Linked DNA regions of Homo sapiens. The protein of the gene in region 1 purifies or fractionates together with the protein of each later gene. This does not show direct contact. Each region holds a gene or a part of one and is shown on either strand. Other genes may lie near its edges.

Region 1 (7,951 bases):
TGTTGGGGATAGGAAGGCCCCTCCTTACCACTGTGGCTGGCAACTCCCCAGAAGGCTTGTTTCCTTGACCCCTACCCACTCTGCCTGGCCTTCTCCTGAGTCCTCCTGGGGGATGTGACCACATTAGCCATGGTCTTTGCCAAGAAGAAGGGTTTAGGCAGGACCACACGATCCAGATGGTTCCTCAGCACCCACCCCCAGCCTGCCAGGAACCCTATTCATTTATTCCCAGCATTTCAACTTGTCCCAATAAGGCAGTGACCTAGTCCCAGGCCAGGCCTCTCAGGGTGGTCTAGAACATCTAGTCGGCCAAGCCCAACAGGCACCATAGACCACAGAACTCAGCAGACCCCCAGATCCTTGAACCTGGAGGGACATGAGAAGGCCTCATGGTCAAGCTCCTGTCCCTAGCCAGGATAATCCTTTCTAAAAGTGCCTGCCTCATTCCTTGCTGCCTGCCACCTCCATTCTCCACAAAGAACCCCCTCACGCTGTGCTTTCAGTGGCTCAGCCTTTGCTTAGGCCTTGGCCATGAGTGGGTAACTCCTGCCATACCTTCCAAACCACCCTTCCTCAAAAACCCTTCCTGCATCTCTCAAGGCTAGATGTGATGCTCCTACTGCTCCCTGGGCCAACCCCTAGCATGGCTCTTATTTGTCCCTCATTCACTCAAATATCTACTTAAGCACCTGCTCCATGATCTGTATAAGGCAATGAGCACCAGATGGGGAGTGCAGAAAGCCAGGCTCAACTGCACAGCTTTGCCACCAACTGGCTGTGTGACTTTGGACCCATCGTTCCTCACTGAGCCTCAGTTTCCCCGGTAAAGTGGGAAAGATTCTGCAGCTCAGCCTAACTTCCAGGGCTTCTGTGAGACTGGGCGGGATGTGAAAGCATGCTGTAAACACTCAGGGTGAGTCATGGTTATCAGAACCTAACCCCTCTGTAGCCTGAGCTCATTTTTGTCCATCCCATCCCTGGAGTCCCCCTCTCTCCCAGGGGGCTGGTAGCCTGTTGGGGATGAACTTGGGAGCTCATGCCTTCCAAGGGGTTGGCACCTGGGTGAGAAATTGGGCAGGAGCACAGCCTACAGGGATGAGAACTTTAAACAAAAACAGCCCATAAATCTTGCCATATAGGGGCAGGGGCCTGGCATGGCTGGGGCCAAGAAGGCATGCCAGGCTGTTCTCTGAGGCAACAGGAGTAAAAGATTTTACGCTAAAGTCATCAAGAAGCCACTGGAAGCACAGCGGGAGGAGGTGGAGACAAAGAACACGGAGCTAGGGGACTAGATACCTGGGTTCTGCTCTGTGTTGCTCTGTGACCTCAGTCATGCTCCTTCCCTTTTCTAGGCCTTAACCTCCTATCTGTATAGTGGGTGCGTCAGCCCAGGTAGTACCCAAAGGCCCTTTCCAACTCAGACAGGCTGTGCCAGCTTTACTTGCCCTTCAGAGCTTTGGCTGTGCCAGGGACAGGCAGGAACAGCTGGTAAGTCTCTCAGAAGGAGCAGGAGCCAAAGAACCTGTGCTTACTGTGACCTCCTCTTCCAGCTTGTGGAAGGGTCAGGCTCTTCCCCGTTTCCTCCACCTCTAGGTAGATGGAATTCACCCTTGGTCCACTTTGCAAGCTACAAGGTTGACACAGGTGCAGAGAACACAGACTCTCAGATGCTTAGGGATCATCCTGCTCATCACTCCCCATACAGGGAGAAACTGAGACCCAGGGAGACACAAGGGCTTGCTTGGGGTCACCCAGTATGTTTATGGCACCACCAGGACTTACACCCAGGGCTAATGTCTGCCTACCACTTGCTCAGTTACAAGTCTCAGCCAAGGCTCAGGTCTCTCCGCCTTGTCATCCCTGTCAGCCAGCCCCTTCCTTCTACTGATAGAGCCAAGCCTCAGTTTCCCTGTTGGAGTGAGTAAAGACATGAGGGTTTCTAGGTCAGGAGTTGGTGAGAATTTCAATCTGGTAATAAAGGGAGAGCAAGGAAAGCCAGGAGGTGTCAGAGAAGGGAGTAGAATCCTCCAGGCTAGGACTACTGTTAGGCAGAAAAACCTGTACTCAGGGCACAAGCAAAGCAGGAGCAGAGGGAGGACTAAAGTTCATTGCAAAACTATTAAACACTGTCACAGTTTGGGGCCTCTCAAGGTCTCAAGGGGGAATGATGATAAAGTTTAAGGGATCACCTAGTCCCACCTGGCTAGGGGGCAGGTAGTGGTAAGAAAAGGGGCCAGAATTTGAGGGTCCTTCTTCCCCTCTGCCTCACAGTGTCCCCTGAGGAGGCTATCTTTCTAGCTCCAGGCTCTGACCTTCTGGGCTCGTCAGACCCCAAGGGGCAGCTGGTCTCACTGCAAGAAACCTGAGAATTGTCCCCTGGGCCCTGACCCAGCTCCAAGGCCCCTTGGGGGAAGGACAGGAAGGGAGGAGAGGGCCACAGAACGCAGTAGATCTCCTCCCTCTTTGGCCCCTCCCAGCTACCCCAAGGGCAGCCCACACTCACCAGCTCTGGGGCCTGCAAGAGCCCTAAGACCAGCGCCTCAAACTTTAAAGCGTCATCACCTGGGCATATTGTTAAAAGGCAGCTTCTGTCTTGGCAAGACTGGGCCTGAGCCTGAGATTCTGCATTTCTGACAGGTCCCCAGGGATGCTGATACTGCGAGTCTGTGGAACACTCTTCGAGCAGCCCTGAGATTATCAGCCTTTAACCCCCGGGGGGAGGAAGCCGAAGGCCCAGAGAGGTCAAGTCACTTGTCCATGGCCACACAGCGAACAGCCCCAGACCGAAAGCAGAGGGCACCTGCCACAGACACACGACATCTCCCCACCCGAGGCAGCGGGAATCAGCTGCCTTTCCCTGGCCCGGGTGCCGTGTTTGTAAACTCGGCTGCTTGGTGCGGCTCGGGCCGGGGTAAAGGGCGCCTCCCAGCAGAGCCTCCCTCGTCTCTGAGCTGGCCTCTCCAGGTTCTCCGTCCGGTATCCCGGGCCGACCAGAGAGAGCCCGGGGCGCCGAGTCCTCTGCGGCGGAGCGATTCCGCACTCCCCTCTCCTCTGAAAGCAAACTTCTCCGCCGGCGCCCTTTACCTTTTTCGGGGGTTTGCAGCTGCTCAGCCTGCTGTGTCTGCAGCCCATCCTCCTCCGGGGGCTCCCGGACGCCGCTTCCCAACTCCGGGGCCCCCAGAGGAGCCTGCGATCCGGGCCCCGCTGCCCGCTCCGCGCCCGCCGGCTGGGGCTGCCGGCGAGACCCTGAAACTGAACCTGGAAGCGCTGTCTTGAGCCTGAGCTGGGGCGGCCGCCCGCCGTAAATACCCGAAGAGCGGGGCCTCAGTGTAGCCCGCAGGGCCAGCGGCGCCGCCACCAGAGGCAGGTGACCAGAATCCTTCTAAATAATAGGAAGCTCTGGTCAGGGCAGAAGAAAAGAAAACCTCAAGGAGCAACAGATGCTTTTCCGAACCCTCAGCTAAGAAAGGGCCGGGGGAAAAAATAATTAAAGCAATTATTTGATAAACTAACAACTATCATTCATTGAGGGCTGTTTTTGTCCCAGTTGTTTTATACATTTTATTTCTATTTCTTGCCATATCAGTGCAACAAAGGTATTACTTCCTCCATTTTACAGGTGAGGAAAATGGTGTTCAGAGATGCAACATGATTTGCCTAAGGTCACATGGCTAGTAAGTTACCACAGCCCAGATAGAATCCAGTTCCTTTTTTTTTTTTTTTTTTGCCGCTATCATAGTTCACTGCAGCCTCAAACTCCTGGGCTCAAGCGAGCCTCCCAGCTCAGCCTCCTGAGTAGCTGGGACTACAGAGGCTCACCACCATACCCAACCAAATTCTTTTCTTTTTTCCAGTCTGATTTTGAACGACCGCCCTCAAGCGATCCTCCCACCCTGGCCTCCCAAAGCGTTGGGATTACAGGCATGAGCCACTGCACAGAATACAGTTCTAACTCCAGAACCTAAACTTTGACTCAATGGCCTACAAATAAATCATAATACTAAGTTTATTGTATTTATTTATTTTTGAGACAGAGTCTCGCTCTATTGCCCAGGCTAGAGTGCAGTGGCACGATCTTGGCTCACTGCAACCTCTGCCTCCCAGGTTCAAGTGATTCTCCTGCCTCAGCCTCCCCAGTAGCTGGGATTACAGGCATGCACCACGACACCCAACTAATTTTTGTATTTTTAGTAGAGACAGAGTTTCACCATTTTGACCAGGCTGATCTCAAACTCCCAACCTCAGGTAATCCGCCCGCTTCGGCCTCCCAAAGTCCTGGGATCCCACACCTGGCCAATAATACTAAGTTTAATTTTAATGCCTCCTCACTTCTGGGCTGATAGTTTTTTCCACCTCACAAGCATCTGTAATATTTGACTCTATCCATCTTGGATAGATGTTATTCATCACAACAACCTCTTGAGGCAGGCCAGGTATGGTGACTATGGGACATAAAATGTCAGTGTCTAGGAAAAGGAGCTTTTGTTTATCTTCTCTTTGTTATTAGCTGAGGTTTCTGAAATGGCAATGCAGGAAAAAGATAACCAATTTTGAAAATCAGTGTGTATGCCTATTTGCGTGTATATTGGAATATTAAAGTCAGGCCCAAAACTCTTGGAAAGGTGTGCTGTGAAAACGGCTTAGAGTCATGAATGGGGAAAGAATATGAGACCTCAAAAAAATTGCTCCCTCCATAGGGTACAAAACCAATTGCAAAAGTGTGTAAGAAAGGAAACTAAGGAAACGTGTTATTAGGTTCTCAAAAGCAAGTATAATAGAGAATGGTGGCTCACAAAGTGTGATTCCCAAATCAGCAGTGTCAGCACTACCAGCCGCCTTTGTTGGAAATGCAAATTCTCGGGCCCCACCCCTGGCCTAAACTCTGGGGATGGGGCTTAGGAATCTATGGCTTCATAAGCACTCCACTCATGTCTGGCCTGGGCTAAAGTTTGAGAACCCCTGCCATAGGACGTGCTCCACAGGTACTGAAGAAACAGGATATACTTAAATTATACTAAAATTAACAATGTTTATTGGAACAGTGCTCATGATTAAAAACAAAGAACCCAAAACAACCTAAACAGCCAAGAAAAGAAGGTTGGTTAAATACATTATGCTATATCCATAAAAATAGAATGCCACATAACCAGCAAAAATACTGATGAAGATGAATTTTTTGTGTTACAAAACATAACAAACTCATTTTCATTAAAAAAAAAAATTGAGTGACTACCACTGTATTGGTGAGATTTTGAAATTTTAAAACAGTTTTTTTTTTTTTGAGACAGGATCTTGCAATATCACCCAGGCTGGAGGGCGGTGGAGTGATCATGGCTCACTGCAGCCTCAGTCTTCCAGGCTTAAGTGATCCTCCCACCTGAGCCTCCCGAGTAGCTGAGACCACAAGTGCCTGCCACCAAGCCTAGCTAATTTAAAAAAAAAAAATTTTGTAGGCCAGGCACAGTGGCTCATGCCTGTAATCCCAGCACCTTGGGAGGCTGAGGTGGATGGATCACCTGAGGTCAGGAGTTCGAGACCAGCCTGACCAATATGGTGAAACCCTGTCTTTACTAAAAATACAAAAATTAGCCGGATGTGGTGATGTGTGCCTGTAGTTTCAGCTACTCAGGAGGCTGAGACAGGAGAATTGCTTGAATCCGGGAGGCAGAGGTTGCAATGAGCCTAGATTGTGCCATTGAACTCCAGCCTGGGCAACAGAGCGAGACTCCCTCTCAAAGAAAAAAAAAATTTTTTTTTGTAGGCCAGACACAGTGGCTTATGCCTGTAATCCCAGCACCTTGGGAGGCTGAGGCGGGTGGATCACCTGAGGTCAGGAGTTCAAGACCAGGCTGGCCAACTTGGTGAAATGCCGTCTCTACTAAAAATTAGCCGAGCATGGTGGTGCATGCCTGTGATTCCAGCTACTAGGGAGGCTGAGGCAGGAGAATCACTTGAACTCGGGAGGCAGAGGTTGCAGTAAGCAGAGATCGTGCCACTGCACTCCAGCCTGGGCAACAGAGTGAGATTCCATCTCAAAAAAACAAACAAACAAAATTTATAGAGAGTCTCACTATATTGCCAAGGCTGGTCTCGAACTCCTAGCCTCAAGCAATTCTCCGACCTCAGCCTCCCAAAATGCTGGGATTACAGGCATGAGCCATTGAGCCTGGCTTCATTTTCTTATATTAAATAATGAGGGCGGGCACACTGGCTTACGCCTGTAATCCCAGCACTTTGGGAGGCTGAGGTGGGAGAATTGCTTGAGGCTAGCAGTTCGAGACCAGCCTGGCTAACATGGTGAAACCCTTCTCTACTAAAAATACAGAAAATTTGCCTGGGCGTGGTGTTGGGTGCCTGTAGTCCCAGCTACTTGGGAGGCTGAGGCAGGAAAATGGCGTGAACCTGGGAGGCAGAGCTTGCAGTGAGCCAAGATTGCGCCACCGCACTCCAGCCTGGGTGACAGAGCGTCTCAAAAAAAAAAAAAAAAAAAAAAAAAAAAAATGAGCATGCACTTATTACTATTGTAATAAACAATATTATTTTAATATGAAAAAGTTTTCTTTTAATATGTTTTTAAACCCATACATGAAACTATCATTAGTTTTTCATCATCAAGACATGGGCAGTTCTGTGAAATCCTAAAGAAATGGACAATGACTGTGATTAATTAGGTAGAAAAGCAACATAAAGGGCAAAGATGGCTAAACTGTGAGCATGAGATCCAAACCCGTAAAGTGATCCTGAACCAGTAATTTCTCCTTTCTGAGAGTTTCTCATCTATATGTTGAAGAGTTGAACTCTCCAAAATTGACCCCAAATTTTAATGTCAACAATTGAAATTAATAACTTGGGGCCAGGCATGGTGGCTCACACTTGTAATCCCAACATTTTGAGAGGCCTAGACAGGGGGAGCACTTGAGGCAAGGAGTTTGAGACCAGCCTGGACAACATAATGAGACCTTGTAAAAAAGAAAAATTTTTTTTAATTAGCTGGGCATAGTAGCGTGAGCCTGTTGTCCCAGCTACTCAGGAGGCAGAGGCCGAAGAATTGTTTGAGCCCAGGAGTTTGTCATTACAGTGAGCTACTATCATGCCACTACACCCCAGCCTGAGTAACAGAGGAAGACACTGTCTCTAAAAATAAATAAAGCAGAAGAAAATAAAATGAATAGCTTGGAGTGGTGGGTAGGAACTAGGAGGCAAGTTCTTTCCCTGGAGCCCCAGCTCTCAAGACGTCTTGCCTCCAGCCTCTTTGAGCCTCCTGGGAGAGCAGGTTCAGATTTCACAATTTCCCACTGCTGGATTTTTGGTCATGTGTTTTGAAGTTCATGCCTGAGAAACTTGAGCAGCATGAGTTTGATAAAGTTGCCAATGAGATTTTTGATGGTTGGTGTACCAGTCAGGTTAGGTTAGGTTTTGCTGAGACAATAAAAAGCATAACACAAGACTTTGTGACTTAACACAAGAGAAGCTAAGTTTTTGCTCACACTACGTGTCCAGAACGGGCAGGCAGTGGGCTCTGCTTCACAGAGACGTTCCACATCGTCATATAACACAGCCTTCTCAACATGACGGCTTTAGGATTTGCTGCACAAAGAGAAGGGAGTGTACCGAGAATAGTGCATAGGGCCTTAACTGCTTCCACTTGGAGGAGACGCACATTAGGTCCACTCACATTTCATTGGCCAAAGCAAGTCAAACAATCATGCCCAACTTTAAGAGGATGGGAAAGTGCAATGTGTGTGCAGAAGGAGAGGAGAATCAGAAATATTGGCAAATAGCATAATGTCTACCATAGTTAGCAATCAATAAGTAGCTACTACTTCTTCGGCAAGTAGGGTGACTTATCCTGACTTGCCTAGGATTTTCCCACTCTTAGCCCTGGAAGTCCCATATCTCCAGAGACTCTTCAGTCCCAGTCATGTTGGGATGGTTGGTCACCCTATGGCCA
Region 2 (7,351 bases), on another chromosome or scaffold:
CTATGCAGGATTCAGAGGACAGCGTCTGTCCCCAGCTGCAGCACGGTAACGGGCACACACATTAAGATAGTAAGAGATGTCCGCTGACGGCCACCAGCTTCCCAGCAGGCTCAGAGAAGTTACTGGAGTTGGAGCTGGGTGACAGCGTGCACAGGCCCAAGCATGGGATCCACCCAGTTCCTGGGAACTACGTCCCTCTGCGTTTCTGCCCAACAAGCTTCCCTTCATGAAGCCCATGAAACTGAACTCATGCTGTGCGGCTGCAATGTCTCGCTACTGTTAAGGAGGACAGTGAAGTATTTTGGGATACACATTCGCTTTTAATAAAAAAGAAATTTCCTCCTACAATTGATCCTGCACACGGGGGGGCCATGAGCCACGCCTGCTGACTCATTCCTCCAATTCTCAAACACAAGCAACGATTCAGGTCCTGGTGAGAACCATTCACGACTCCTCCGGGACCTGTTCCACCCTCCCCGTCATGCACAGATGATCTTAGTAACCAGAGTAAGAGTCTGCCTGAGACACGAGTCTTTTTTCCTGGCTCCAAGGGCTAGTGCCAAAGTTCCTCCCTCCACCGGGGAGGGAGGTGAGACTTGAGTCCCTGAGTGGGTGTCTGGGTGTTCACGTGTCCTGCTGAGCAGCGCGGGGCGGCTGCCTCCAGGTCACCACACCTGGCACACCCGGATCACCTCCCTCAGCGCCTTCAGCCCCTCCATGCTTTTGTCCTTCACGGCCACGGCGAGGAGGACTGCTCTGTTTCCAGCTTCTTGAGACACAAACGCTACCAGGTTCTTTGCAAAGACATGGATGAGAGGCTGGTAAAGGAAGGAGAAGAAACCATTTTAACTGCAAGAAACCTGGTTTTTTCCTCAATGCTTTCATGAAGTATCCCTTAGGAACCCAGGCAGGCTTCCCACACCACCATTAACCGCCACATAAGTCCATGCAACTGTGACTCAGAGTTCTGGCAGCACTCAGAACACTCCAGTCACGGGCACACTGCTAAAGACCATCACTCCATTCATTTTCCCAGCGCCTTCCGCAGCCCCGCCTCTTCTGGCTCTCTCTCATCTAAAAGAACCCAGGAAAGAGAAGCCTGCAGAAGCGAGTGCTGTCGAATCTCACGTGTGATCTCCACAGAGCACAGCACAGCCAGCCGCCTGCTCACGTAATGTACCATGGCAGGGGAGGCGGCTCGAATGACAAAACTGCTGCTTCTGCTTGTCTGCTGGATAAAATGCCTGCGGGCTGGACAAAGCATCCACTGAGGGCAAGCAGGGCGCCTTGAGACCCACAAATGCCCGGAAAATGCTATCGCTGTAGGGGTATTTGTCCGCCAGATGCCCCATGTCCTTACTGACAAATCACAGCCACTGGAGAGGTTTATGCTCCTCCCTGGGGGTCCCTTCCTGACCACTTTATTATTATTATTATTATTATTATTATTAAAGACAGAGTCTTGCTCTCTCACCCAGGCTGGAGCGCAGTGGCACAATCATGGCTCACTGCAGCCTCAACCTCCAGGGCTCAAGCCATCCTCCCACCTCAGCCTCCCAAGTAGCTGGGAGCACAGGCACACACCACTAGGCCCAGCTAATTTTTTGTTTCCTTTTCTTTTCCTTTTTTTTTTAAGACCAAGTCTCTATCTGTTACCCAGGCTGGAGTGCTGTGGCACGATCTTAGCTCACTGCAACCTCCGCCTCTCGGGTTCAAGCGATTCTTCTGCCTCAGCCTCCTGAGTAGCTGAGATTACAGGCATGTGCCACCACACCCAGCTAATTTTTATATTTTTCGTAGAAATGGGGTTTCCCCATGTTGGCCAGGCTGGTCTGGAACTTCTGACCTTAAGTGATCTGCCCGCCTCAGCCTCCCAAAGTGCTGGGATTACAGGTGTGAGCCACTGCACCCAGCCTCTCTCTATATATATATTTTGTGTAGGCACTTGTTTTTTTGTAGTGACTTGTGTGTGTGTTGTTGTGTTGCCCAGGCTGGTTTCAAACTCCTGGCCTCAAGCGATCTGCCCGCCTAGGCCTCTGAAAGTGCTAGGGTTACAGGCGTGAGCCACAGTTCCCGGCCAATCCACTTTACCTCATCCTGCCCCAGAAGGACTTTTGTGGTGAGCACAGGCTTGCTGACGTCACTGGCCACGCTGCTGGGCTCCAGGGAGACCAGGGTGCCCATCTTCCCAAACTGGGTCACCACCACCAGGATGTGACTGCTGAAGGCCGTACACACCACCTGGGTGGGGACCCCGCACACCACCTCCGTCTTCTGCTTCGATATCACCAACGGCGTGTCTTCCATGGCGGGGCTCTGCAGTGGCAGCTTTAATTTAGGTTAAAAAGAAAGGGGAAAAAAAGGAGTCAATCAAACAGTACAGCCTTGGGGCTCCCAAAAAAGTAGCACGGGGCATTGAAACGGAAACGCAAGGAGGCCCATTCAAAAGAAGGGGCCAGGCGCGGTGGCTCATGCCTGTCATCCCGGCACTTTGGGAGGCCGAGACAGGACGATCGTTGAGGCCAGGAATTCGAGACCAGCCTGGCCAACATAGCGAGACCCCCATCTCTACCAAAAAAAAAAAAAAAAAAAACCAGCAGGGCGCGCCTGTGGTCCCAGTTACTCAGGAGGCTGAGGCGGGAAGATCGCTTCAGCCCGGGAGGTCGAGGCTGCGGTGAGCCGTGATCACACCATTGCATTACAACCCGGGCGGTAGAGCGAGACCCTGTCCGTAAAAAAATAAAACAGAAGCAGGAGCGGGGCCGCCCATAGAGACCGCGCCTGGGGCTTTCTGGGTTAGGGGATCGACTTGCACGTTCACACTGCCAGGCCGGGCAGTGGCTTCCCGCCCCTCGGCCTCGCCGCCGCCCCGGCCCTGCAGCCGCGGCCCGGGACCCCCACGACACGCGGTGCCGAGGCCGGCCGGGCTACTGGGGACGCAGCCGCCCGGGGAAGCCCGCGGGTACCCGCGCTCACCAAGCCGGCGCCGCGCCCGGAAGTGGCTCTGCGTGCGCCACGCGGGCCCGCCCCGTCCGCGGGTTCCGTCCACCTTCCGGAAGTCAGGGCCGCGGCGCTTCTGGTCCCGGAGACTTGGGGCTCCCGGGCTTCTGAGCGGCTCGGGTTCCGCGCTGCCGGCAGGGCTTGGGGGCGCCTTAGAGCCGAACCCCGTTTTTTCAGGAAAGGGCGCTGCGACCACCCCCGTCCCGGGCCTCAGCCCCTCTGCTGCAGACCCTCGGGATCGTCGCTGGTAGGAGCTCTGTCCCCCGTGTCTGTGTCCAGGACCCCCGAAGCGCCGCGCCTAGGAACCCCCTAGCGCTGGGAGCCCGGCCCTGCTCGACCACGGGCTTTGGGCTGGAGGCGTCATCGTCGCCACAGCGAACGCTTATTTGGCACCGAGTGTCCGCCAGGCATCGCTCTAAGCGCTTTATACCCATAACTCACTTCATCTCAGCCACCCGGTTCCGTAGAAGCGTTTCATCCGCGTTTTACAGACGTGTGCAGGTGCAGAGAGCTCGGCCAGGCTCAGGCGGCGGGCGGGCTGGGGTGGGCTCCGACCGTCCCTCGGGCGCTCCGTGACACGAAGCCCCGGCCAAGGCCAAGAAGGGGGCCAGCCCCACCCTGAAGCGGGATGAGTTCTGGTTCCTCCCAGGGACCCCCTCACTCCCTACTGCTCACTCTCAGTTTCTCCAAGCTGGAAGGTTTTTTGTTTTGTTTTGTTTGAGACGGAGTCTTGCTGTGTCACCCAGGCTGGAGTGCAGTGGCGCGATCTCGGCTCACTGCAGCCTCCGCCTCCCTGGTTCAAGCAATTCTCCTGCCTCAGCCTCCTGTGTAGCTGGGATTACAGGCGTGCGCCACCAGGCCCGGCTAACTTTTTAAATTTTTAGTAGAGATGGGGTTTCACCATGTCGGTCAGGCTGGTCTTGAACTCCTGACCTCAGGTGATCTGCCTTCCTCGGCCTCCCAAAGTGCTGGGATTACAGGCGTGAGCCACCGCGCCCCGCTGCTGGAAGTTTTATTGGTAGGGTCGGACATCTTGGTAGCAGAGGCTGAAAGTGATTGGAGCCTCCAGAGCCTTCCTCGGGGTGGGGCGTTTAACATCCCTTCAGAACCCCACCCTCGGAGGCCTTACTGTCGTTTCCTGACAACCATGTCAAGGCCGTATTTTCTGTCTATATTACCAGAAAGGGGTCCCGATCCAGACCCCAAGAGAGAATTGAGGGCGAGTCCACAAAGTGAAAGCAAGTTTATTAGAAAAGTAAAGGAATTGAGGCAGGAAAACAGGGTCTGGAGGCAGGGAACACTTCAGCTATGACAGGAAATACCCTCTCCATAGGGTGTACACTGAGTAAATGATTTTGTAACTTTATTTCATCCTCTTTATTTACATAGGGCGTACACCAAGTAACCAGTAGAAACCCCTAGAGGGTATTTAAACCTCACAAGTTCTGTAATGGGGCCCTGAGCCTCTATGCTTTGGCCGCCCCCACACCATGGAATGTACTTTCATTTTCAAAAAATTTCTGCTTTTGTTGCTTCATTCTTTTTTTGCTTTGTGCATTTTTTTTTTTTTGAGACAGAGTCTCTGTTGTCCATGCTGGAGTGCAGTGGCGTGATCCTCACTGCAACCTCTGCCTCCCGGGTTCAAGCAATTCTCCTGCCTCAGCCTCCTGAGTAGCTGAGATTACAGACGTGCGTCACCATGCCCGGCTAACTTTTGTGTTTTTAGTAGAGACGAGGTTTCGCCATGTTGGCCAGGCTGGTCTTGAACTCCTGACCTCAGGTGATCTGCCCGCCTCGGCCTCCCAAAGTGCTGGGATTATAGGTGTGAGCCACCGCGCCCGGTGGCTTTGTGCATTTTGTCCAATTCTTTGTTCAAGATGCCAAGAACCTGGACACCCTCCACCAGTAACAGAATAAAGAATGGCTACTCCATAGGCAGAGCAGCATGGGCTGCTGGTTGCCCATTTTTGTGGTTATTTCTTGATGATATGCTAAACAAGGGGTGGATTATTCGTGCCTTACCTTTTTAAACCCTTTAGGGTAACGTCCTGGCATTGCTATGGCATTTGTAAACTTACGGCGCTGGTGGGAGTGTAGCAGCTGGGACGACCAGAGGTCACACTCATCGCCATGTTGGTTTGGTGGGTTTTGGTCAGCTTCTTTACTGCAAACTGTTTTATCAGTAAGGTCTTTATGACCTGTAGCTTGTGCCGACCTCTTATCTCATCCTGTGACATAGAATGCCTTAACTGTCTGGGAATGCAGCCCAGCAGATCTCAGCCTCATTTTACCCAGCCCCTATTCAAGATGAAGTTGCTCTGGTTCAAACACCTCTGACATTTACACCACTGAAGCTCCAAGGAAGATCTTGACTCCCTCTTCTCACCATTTGATGACTTCGTATCCAATCCAAGTCAAGTCAAATGAAGCATGCTCCTTCCAATGATGATTTCTGGAGGCCTAAAATAAAAAGCATGCATACAGAAAATGATCAAAATAGACATAAATCAAGGGGAAATTCATTTTTGAGCATTCTTGCAGCCAGTACACAAAAGGAGAGATGATGAGTTTCATGGTTCTAATACTCAAAAAACAGGAAGCATATCAACTTCCCAGGAAAGTCTAAGTTTCTGTCGGCTCTAAATTTAAACACACATCCACCCACACATACCCCACAAGCAAATTGCCAGTGGATTGCTTTGCCATCTGAAATCTTCAAAAGGTTCACTCGCTTTTATTCACCTGTTTGTGTATTCTCCCTCTCTGTAGGCAAATAGATACAAGAAATCTGATCCTGTCCTCTCAAAGAAAACCCTCTGAAATAAACTTATCACCTTTAAAAAAGGGATGTTGAAGAACAAGATGGATTTTTGTTGTTGTTGTCGTTTTTTGAGATGGAGTCTCGCTCTTGTCGTCCAGGCCGGAATGCGGTGGTGCGATCTCGGCTCACTGCAACCTCCGCCTCCCAGGTTTAAGCGATTCCCCTACCTCAGCCTCATGAGTAGCTAGGATTATAGGCACCTGCCACCACGCCCGGCTAATTTTTGTATTTTTAGTAGAGACTGGGTTTCGCCATGTTGGCCAGGCTGGTCTCAATCTCCTGACCTCAGGTGATCTGCCCGCCTCGGCCTCCCAAAGTGCTGGGATTACAGACGTGAGCACCCAGCCTGGATGTTGTTTTTGATGACACTGCTAAGCACTTATGTGAGGGATTGTTTGGGTGGTTTGGGTCTAGATCTAAGATAAAGACAGTAGGAAAGAAATGAGAGGTGGAAGGTTGTCCTAGGCTGAGGTGGTGGTCCAGGGACTTTCTGGCAGCCTGGATGGATGCCTGGGCAGAATTTATATATCTAGAAGAATGGAAGAGGACCTCATTGCATGCCATTGACTGTTCTCCAGTACCCAAGGGTAAAGGAACTGGAAAGAAAGACTCACTCAAGTGCATTCACATAAAATGGGAATCTAATAGTAATGGTGCCAATTGTGGGGCAAAGAGTTCAAGGAGTTATTTTGAAAAATGAAAAAAAAAGCAAAGTATCTTAAATTTGTCTTATATTCAATAAATTGTCGGTGATAATGCTATGGTGTGTGCATTTGTAGAACCAACAAAGACTTAGTCAAGTGCCGATTTGGTAGGATTGTAATTTTTCCGACAAATTGTATGATCGCTACACACGTTATCCTTCCCATTGTGTGTGATTTTCCCAGCTCCAGGATGAAGAGGATTGGTTTTACAAAAATGGGCAAGGACACCATCAATTTCCCCACAAGTCTCTCTCTCTCTCTTTTTTTTTTTTTTTTTTTTAGACAGAATTTCACTGTGTCGCTAGGCTGGAGTGCAGTGGCAAGATCTTGGCTCACTGCAATCTCCACCCTCCAGGTTCAAGCGATTCTCCTGCCTCAGCCTCCTGAGTAGCTGGGATTACAGGCACCCACCACCACGCCTGGCTAATTTTTGCATTTTTAGTAGCGACGAGGTTTCACCATGTTGGCCAGGCTGGTCTTGATCTCTTGACCTTGCGACCCGCCCGCCTTGGCCTCCCAAACTGCTGGGATTACAGGCGTGAGCCACCGCACCTGGCCACGTCTCTCTTCATCGTTTAATAGTCTCACCCTTTCTTGTTGAAGGACCATCCGGCCATTAGCCATGGGCGTGGCCTCACTCTCAGCCGCCTGACTGTGTAGCTTTGCCAGGGCCTCCCACACTGACCCACTGCTTTGGTCTCCATCTGAGCATCCCTGGCATCCCATTTGTGGGCTTCCTGAAACCGTTTTTTTTTTTTTTTTTTTTTTTTGAGATGGAGTTTTGCTCTTGTTGCCCAAGCTGGAGTGTAATGGTGCAATCTCGGCT

The links. Proteins that work in one complex are often made in the same cells at the same time.
Region 2: the proteins of CCDC69 (region 1) and PSMG3 purify together in Homo sapiens (affinity purification with mass spectrometry; 2 studies listed by BioGRID and IntAct, with this or other methods). This does not show direct contact.

Annotation. Positions count from the first base shown.
Region 1 is NC_000005.10:151,220,839-151,228,789, forward strand, and holds the start of CCDC69 (coiled-coil domain-containing protein 69), read right to left. Parts: upstream 3,255-7,951; 5' UTR 3,133-3,254; coding exon 3,085-3,132; exon of another isoform or gene 2,638-3,084; intron 1-2,637. UniProt on the Homo sapiens protein: May act as a scaffold to regulate the recruitment and assembly of spindle midzone components. Required for the localization of AURKB and PLK1 to the spindle midzone.
Region 2 is NC_000007.14:1,567,033-1,574,383, forward strand, and holds PSMG3 (proteasome assembly chaperone 3), read right to left. Parts: upstream 3,001-7,351; 5' UTR 2,308-3,000; coding exon 2,092-2,307; intron 819-2,091; coding exon 666-818; 3' UTR 300-665; downstream 1-299. UniProt on the Homo sapiens protein: Chaperone protein which promotes assembly of the 20S proteasome. May cooperate with PSMG1-PSMG2 heterodimers to orchestrate the correct assembly of proteasomes.